Linked DNA regions of Homo sapiens. The protein of the gene in region 2 purifies or fractionates together with the protein of the main gene of each other region. This does not show direct contact. Each region holds a gene or a part of one and is shown on either strand. Other genes may lie near its edges. The genes, in order: LRRTM4 and NDRG2.

Region 1 (3,809 bases), on a different chromosome or scaffold from region 2:
TTGGGTAGAGTTTGGTGTTTTTAATTTTTTTTTAAAAAAACCTACCTCACAAAAATGTCTTATAAATATATTAATGGTTCTCTGCTAAACTAGTGATATATGAGACTTATGAAAACAATGCCAAGCTAAAACTCAGCATACTTATACTATTCCAAAAACATTGTAAAGTTGGGCAAATCGCTGCCCTCTCTTGGCTCTATTTTGTAGAGAGATTTTGTCCAAAGGAATATTTCTCAACAGGAGAAATTTTACTCCGAGTGACAAAGAAGTAAGAAGTAATTAGGGTTTTCCCTATAACAATTTCTAAGAGTTTGCTTTTCCTCACCATTTATATCTACCTATAACTGTAATACAGCAAACATTCTGTCAAAAAATGGGGTGACCCCTGCAATGTTTGTTTTTGTATGCTTTCGTTTTAAAACAAGTTGAAATTCATTTAAATATAGTTTTATAGCACCCCCCTCCTCATCCTAAATGGACATATGATCTTAAATGTATAGCCTACTAATGTCCATGTTTGAGGGCACAGAAAGTTTGAGCTACTTTAGTAAGGATTCCATTTTGACTCAACAGAATTATTACAATATTTAATTACATTCTTCATTACTTAATGCCTTAACAACACATTCATTTTCAACAATACTAGTGCAATTTCATGACATTAAATGTCAATCTATATAACACATACAATATCAAAATGTGTTTATTTAAACACACGTTTTAATTAAATGAACCATCTTTTAAACTTGTTTCTGTCATGGTAATGCCTAGGGTTTTTGATGGAATAATCTGTGAAATTTAAGATCTCTGGAAAAGTCTTAGAACCCCAGTTCTCAAATCCTGGTTCTTTAAGAATGTTTCTTTCTTCTTGGTGATTCTTAAACATAAAAGTTAGCATTCTACTCCAAAAGTCAAGAGAAAATGAATTAATGCGTCTAGAATTTTCTTTTCTTTTTATATACCAGCCTTTAAGAGGATCACAAAATATAAGGAGAACCCAGAATAAAATAGGATGAACTTGTGTTACTAATACTCAAGTATATTGTATAATTGTGGGCCTGCAATAAAAACATCAAGCCTTGTTAGACTTTTATAGAAAATCTTTTATTCTTTTTAATTTTTAAGGGCAATTGCTTATACAGTTTCCTTTTAGGAATTTATTATCTGGGATTACTTCTCTTATTTTCAATGATACACAAAAAAGAAGAAAATGAATTCTTTGAAGAACAGTTCAATAGTCCAAATTGTACTGAGTTAGAGATTATTTCAAATTCAGTGCTTTGTCTGAAAACATTTTCATTAGCATTTGTAGTTAGGACTATGGAAAAATTGGAGTATATGCTATCAAAGAGCAATTATATTTTCCAACTGTTAACTAGCATTAGAAAGGGCAACATCTTTAATTACTCATTAAAACTGTCTTTTGAAAGAGTGATCATCTAAAATCAGATACTAAAACATTATATTGCCAGAATTTAACCTCTCTTCACTAGTTTCTTCCAGCAACAAGGCCTTAGTAGTCAGTCTTTGCACATAATGATCAACATTACCAAGAAAAGAACAATTTACATCCAGCATTACTTATTGACAAGTTTGAAATTTGTGACTATTTGTCTGCTCACTAACATGATCCTGTAAGTGATCTTTTAAATTAAATAATCAGAAACCGGGTCCAAATTTATTCTTATAAAAACAAAAATAATATAACATGGAAGGTACACCTTTATTTGAGGCTGTTACAGAAAGGGAGGATACCCAGAACTCAAACCTCTCTCCTTTTATTTATAAATATTTGTATCACTTATTTTTTAATAAGTTTAACAAGAATACATATCATTTCTTTTGGGGATGACAGCAATACTGACAAACAGTCCCTGTTATGACTGCCATTTTATTATTGCTAAATCATCCACAAAATTGTGACCTGATTTTAGTTACCAGGGACAAAGCCAAAGCATGGAATTGAAGTTTCATTCTGATTAAACACAAATAGCCAGTGCATAAAAACCTTTGAAATCGGATCTATATCCCAGTAATTAAAAAACAAACAAACAAACAAAAAAAGAAGGAAGAGAAAGGAAGGAAAGGAAGGAGTGAAAGAAAGTAGGAAAGAAGGAAACAAAAAAAAAAAAAGAAAGAAGCCTTAGGAGCCTGATACAATTACACAGTAGGCCTCTGACATTCTCTATGCTGGTATAATAACTAAATGGCAAGTAACATGGGTGTGAGATCCCTGTTGCATGCTTTCATTAAAACTAAAAATTTACAACAAAATCAACCCTTGGGAAAATTGCTCTTTGGTTTAAATCTTCATTACCTTCTGGAATTTTGGTAAACTCACTTTATTTTTAAATTAAGCTGGCCCTCTTCTTTACTCCATTACAACAGTCAAACACCAAGAACCAGACAGAAATTTCAGAATGAAAAGAGTTTTGTTTGTATGTGTGTTTTTAAGTCCAACCCCTGTATACAAATTGTTAAAAAGCAGATGTTTTAACATAGTGCTTTATTCCAACTTATCCTTGAATGAACTTCCTTCAAGTTTCAACCATTTAAAAAAAAAAAAAAAGCAGTCAATTTCCTGGTGGTTGTAATTTAATTAAGTAACCTTTCACACTGAGCAAAACCCAAAAGCAAAAGGGTCATTAATCTTTCTAGTGATTAGAGACACCTCTAGGGCTTCAAACATTTACCTCTCCTTCCCCGCAGTAGAAATGCTTTTAGGAGGATCATGGTTCATACCTCACATTCCCTGGAGCCAGAGATGGTATATGTGCAGGGCCCAGATCCATTAACCGATATATCCATGGTCTCAGAGTTTGTAGGCTTGTAGTCCACATAATACTCCTGTAAAGGGGAATTCATTTGTCTTTCAGACTCTCTGGCCTTTTTCCGCCGCCTCTTCATAAGAGAGTGTTGCTGGAGTTGTTTCATGCTGGCTGGGTAGCGTTTCCAAGACACATAGATCACCAAGAGGATCATGGCCACTGAGAGAAAGAGAGCCACACTCCCGGCAATAATTTTGTGAAATGAAACATGCTCATACTCTTGCTCTGCGCCAGGAATCTGAAACCCTGGGGAAGGGCTTGGTGTTTCAAAGGTGGATTGGGTGACGTCAGGTTTGAAGATGGTAGGTCTAGGGATAATCAGAGGTTTCTGGGGAGTTTGGGGCACCAGGTGTGATCTTTCTGTGTTGACCACCTGGACTTCAGAACAGATATTATATGTTTCCACTGCATCACTAACCTTTTCACCCTGGATGTGCTTAGGTCCCGCACATATCATGGTGCTTTCCTTATTTCCTTTGAAATTCTTAAGCCAATAAAATAAAGGACAAATGCTCCGACTGCATTCCCACATATTTCCAGACAATGTGATGGATATTAATGATATCCACGCATTGACAGTTTCCTGTGAGATATTGGTGAGCTTGTTGGAATCCAAATTCAATTTTTGTAAATTGGGGAGGCATTTAAATGTGCCCGGCTCAATTCCTTGGATGTCATTCCCTGATAAATCCAAGTTGTGTAAGGAACTCCAAGTCCATGTCAAACCTTGGCTAATGGAGCGAATCCTGTTCCATTGTAAGTAAATTGAGCGGAGGTTGAAGAGACGTGGAAAATGAGCAAAGTTGATCTTGGAAAACTGGTTGTGCTCCAGGTGGAGCTCCTTTAACTTCAAGAGGCCAGCAAATGCATTTCGGGACAAGCTTCGAAGACGATTGTAACCCAAATCCAAAAAATCAAGATTCCGACAGTCTTGAAAAACTCTTATGGGCACAGTCTTTAGTGAGTTAGATCTCAAGTGCA
Region 2 (4,386 bases):
ATTGCGGGTGGTGAGGGTGGTGGTGGGAGGGTGGTTCCCAGGCAGGAGGGGGCAGGGAAACTTGGGGGTCTTGGGGGGGCAGTCGGTGCTGGTGTTGCAGTTGGCAGCTCAAGTTCCATTGGCCATTGTTCCTGACTGGCCTGGCGCCCAGCCCCCGAAATGGCAACTCAGGAACCAGTCTGAAGGGGGTTGGGGTGGATATGATCCTGGGATTGGGGGAGCTACAAGGGGGGCAGGTGGGGAGAAATTCAGTCAGGTTTCCTTTTGCCTAAACAACTTCGAATTCCCTTAAGCCACATTTTTAATCAACTAACTCATTCCAGGGAGCCTTCCTCCGAGGGGCACAAGGAGAGCTCATTCCAGGGTGTGTGTGTGTGTGTGCGTGTGCGTGTGTGTGTAAAGTCTACAGTGGCAAACCCACTCGGGCACCGAGAGGGACGCGGCAGACCCTGAGACCATCCCCCGGGCATTGCGATTCAGCGGGCCTGAGCTGGTCTCCTATTCTGGGCCGGACTGGGAGGGGTTAGCGGCGAAGCCACAGGGTCTCTTGGGTCCCAGCCCAGGACACTGCGTCCTCCCCAAGCCCCTACTCCACCCCCGCAGGGTTAACTCCGCCCCTGCGCCTGTTTACCCAGGAGTCAGAGCCTCTGGGGGTCCCCGGCCCCTCCCCCGCGCCCCTTGAGGCATTGACCCCAGAGTCCCTGTTGGCCATCCTCTCCCCACCCCCCGCCTGCCCGCGATCGCCCTCTATTTATAGCGGCCCCCCGCATTCCCCGCCCCCACCTCCCCGCCTTGTTGTCCAACTTCTCCCGGAGCAGCCGGAGAGCAGGCGTCGGGACGCAGCAAAGAGAGGAGAGGTACCAGGACTCTGGGCACGAGGGAGTCGGAACTCCTGCGCCCTCGACGTTCCCCCGTGCCCCCTTTCGGCGCCAGCACACCTGCCCCTGCCAGCCGGCGAGACCCCCGCCTCCTCAGCGGCGGTCCCGCCCACCTCCTCCTTTCTTAATCTAGTTCTCTGTGTTCGGGCGGGGGGAGTCGAACTCGTGGGGTGTCAGTATCCCGGGTTCGTCTCCCCACTACCGGTTCCCACCACTGAGTCTGGGGGCGAAGGAAGGAGCCAGAGTGCAATTGCAGATCCAGGTCGTGGATGGGGCGGTGCTGAGGGCAGCCGAGGGATCCCTCTCAGGGCTGAGGGATCCCCGCACTCCCCACACCGCCCCAATGCGGGGAGGGGGTGGTGGAATGTTTTGGTGAGCCGAGCAGAGCCTGGAAGCGTCCAGCCGCCCGCCCCTCGCCCCCCGGCCCCAGCACAACCCTTTCCTGAGCGGCAGTCTGGGCGGGGTGAAAGGGGGGGCGTGTTTACTGGGGGTCTGGGGCGGGTCTGCGGGGAGCCTAGCGCCCGTGGGCGGGCTGGGGCGGGCCGGGGGCGGGTCTGCGGGAAGCCCGAGCCGGGGCGGGCCCGAGTCAAAGGCAAGTGAAGGTGGAAGCGGCCGCGGCGGCAGCAGGTAGGGGGAGGGGCAGGCGAGGGGCCGTAGGGCCTGGAAGGCGCCAGCCGGGCCGGCGGGCGGTGTGATTGATCCGCGTCCCCTGGAGCTGGAGGCTCGGGGGAAAGGGCCAGCACGGAGCGGGCGCTCGGTTGCTGCGCACAAAGGCTGAGGCTCCAAGAGCTGCAGGGCGTGTTTGGGGTGCGCGCGAGGTTGTGTGCAAGGTCCGGGGCGCTTGGCACCGGCCACGCAAGGGTGTCAGTCTCCACGCGGACGGGCTGCGTAGGGACTCGTAGGGACGGGTTCCGGGTGCTGGGCCCGGCCGGTCTCCTCTGTCCTACCCATCCCTTCCCGATGGCGCTTGCCTTCGCGGGCCGTCGGGGGAGAACGGGAGAAGATTGTGGGACCGCTCTCCTCTCCCTTTCTCCACTCGTGGGACCTACACGGAGACTGAGTAGAGGAGAGAAGCGACGGCACCAATCTTTGTGTTTGTTTTTAAATTGTGGAGGGAAACAGCCATGCTCTGCTACCCTCCTCTTACTGGAGAGCTGTCAAAAATTTTGGGGATCCCCTATTCCCCCGCGTTTAGTCCCCCTGCAGATAGAAAATTGAGGCCAAATGTAGTAACTAACTGGGGCAAGGTCACACTGGGAGTGGCAGAGCCGGGATTCGAATCCGGAGGTTCTGACAGGGCCACCCTCTTACCTCCACATCAGCACTTCCTTCTCTCCTCCGCGCAGCCTGAACTGATGCCCTTGTAGCCTATATTGATTCCGGCTCGAGCCTAGAGAGGACGTGTTCTCTGGACTTAGGGGTAGACAGACACTGGGGAGGGTTAGTGACCCGAGGAGGTTGATGACCCTGGGAGTCTGGGTCTTGGCTGAGGCTTTCCGTCCCTGAAAGACCCCAGGTCTGTCTCCCATGTCATTCACCTCGTTGCTGTGTTTTCTCAGACCCCAGAGTCAGAAGGAGTGAGAACCCTGACCCCTAATCCCACTGCATCCAGCCAATAGGAGCCCAGTAAGTGACCCCACCCCGCAGGCTGCAGGCTCCTTCCTGTGCAGGTCTGTCCAGGTGCTCTGCTCCTCACCCACTAATGTTGAACTTGCGGAGTTTATTCAGAGTTGGGAGGAAGGGTCTTGGGAGGAAGGGAGGCATTGGGTTGGTTGGACAGATGTCCCTTTTATGTTGTTTTCCCCACCTCCCCCATTGGTCATGTTGCTTTGGTCATTTTTAGCCCCCTTTGAGCTGCCGACTTTGGGGCTTTAATTGAAGGTCATGGTCAATTGTGAACTCTCACAGTCCCGTCTTTTGGTACCCTGTCCTTTAGAATACTCAGTCACTGAGCTACAAGTTTCACTCCCTACCTGAGAGTGTGGGGTGGCCCCTAAATATAGCCCGAGAAATCTGAGCTACACTTCTGCCCCACCCTGGTATTTTGGTCCAGGGCAGAGGAGGGAGGGGTCTGGAGGTGTGGTGTTGAGGGTGGCAGTGGGGATGGTGAGTATCAAGAGAAGGGCTGTCCTGATTCCTCTTCCAAAGCTTCCACCGATCAGCCTGGAAACGGAGCTGGGGGCAGGAAAGGCCCTCTGTGTGTTCTAGAGTAGTCTTCAACCCCTGGGTCCCTCTGTTCCCTGCATCTTCCTGTGCTGAGAGAGGAAGCCTGGTGTTTGAGGCGATGTGGGGATGTAGAGACAACTTCCCAGTCTCATTTCCTCATCCTGCCAGGCCACCATGGCGGAGCTGCAGGAGGTGCAGATCACAGAGGAGAAGCCACTGTTGCCAGGACAGACGCCTGAGGCGGCCAAGGTTATTAGAGACCGTTTGACTCCCATGCCCAAATTCCAGACCTCTAAGCATCCCCCTTGCCTTCTAACTTCCCAAGCGTACTGATCTTATTCTAACTCACACCACTGCTTCACCACTACCCTAGTCTCTCTCCCCATACACTATAATTGGGAGTCAGGCCCTTGTCTCGTCACTACACTAACCTTCATCCTTTCCGTGTCTCTCTTTGTCAATCTCTTTCTGTCTTTGGTCATTTGTTGGTCTGTCTTTACTTGCCTCTCTTTGTCTGTTTGTCTCTCCATCTGGGACGCCACATGGTCATGTGTTTCTGTGTGAATCCGTGTGTGTCTCTCCAGGAGGCTGAGTTAGCTGCCCGAATCCTCCTGGACCAGGGACAGGTAACAGTGTGGGGGCAGTCCCAAGGTGGGAGGAGGGGCTGTCCTCTTCCCCAGTAGAAGGATGGCCTCTGCTTGGCCCTCTCTTCTCTCTTTGCTTTCTTTCCTTCTATTCTAGTCCTTTCCCTTCCCTATCTCTCCCCTCTCCTTCCTTCCCCTCCTCTTCTCTCTCTAATCTTCATTATTCTTTCTTATCCTCAAACTCATCTTCCGGTATCATGTTTTCCTCAATTCTTGCTGATCCTGTTTTTAATTCTTTGTTCCCTTTTCCCTCTTGCCCACCCACTCCCAGCTCCCTGACCTTGGTGTTGCTCCTTTTCTGGCCTCGTCTCCTCTGAGCCTAGCTCTTGGTGCCCTGTTTTCCTGCAGACTCACTCTGTGGAGACACCATACGGCTCTGTCACTTTCACTGTCTATGGCACCCCCAAACCCAAACGCCCAGCGATCCTTACCTACCACGATGTGGGACTCAACTGTAAGGACCTTCATTCATCTCCCACTCCTGTCTGGGAAGAGGCTGTGGGGGAAGGGTAGAAATGAAACCCAGAGGGAGGGGAGGGGTCAGTGTGGGAAGGAGAAGTTCTCTCCTGGTCTGACTGTGGCATGAAAGGAAGGGTGAGTTCTGACTGGGGGACACGAGTCCCTGTCTGATTCTATTGTTGAGGTGATGTGGGTTCTCTTTAGATAAATCTTGCTTCCAGCCACTGTTTCAGTTCGAG

The links.
Region 1: the proteins of NDRG2 (region 2) and LRRTM4 purify together in Homo sapiens (co-immunoprecipitation; one large-scale study listed by IntAct). This does not show direct contact.

Annotation. Positions count from the first base shown.
Region 1 is NC_000002.12:77,515,576-77,519,384, forward strand, and holds part of LRRTM4 (leucine-rich repeat transmembrane neuronal protein 4 isoform a precursor), read right to left. Parts: coding exon 2,743-3,809; coding exon of another isoform or gene 2,737-2,742; exon of another isoform or gene 1,083-2,736; intron 1-1,082. UniProt on the Homo sapiens protein: May play a role in the development and maintenance of the vertebrate nervous system. Exhibits strong synaptogenic activity, restricted to excitatory presynaptic differentiation.
Region 2 is NC_000014.9:21,022,148-21,026,533, reverse strand, and holds the start of NDRG2 (protein NDRG2), read left to right. Parts: upstream 1-1,472; 5' UTR 1,473-2,504; exon of another isoform or gene 2,505-2,558; intron 2,559-3,026; exon of another isoform or gene 3,027-3,212; coding exon of another isoform or gene 3,213-3,218; coding exon 3,219-3,293; intron 3,294-3,628; coding exon 3,629-3,670; intron 3,671-4,036; coding exon 4,037-4,142; intron 4,143-4,351; coding exon 4,352-4,386. UniProt on the Homo sapiens protein: Contributes to the regulation of the Wnt signaling pathway. Down-regulates CTNNB1-mediated transcriptional activation of target genes, such as CCND1, and may thereby act as tumor suppressor. May be involved in dendritic cell and neuron differentiation.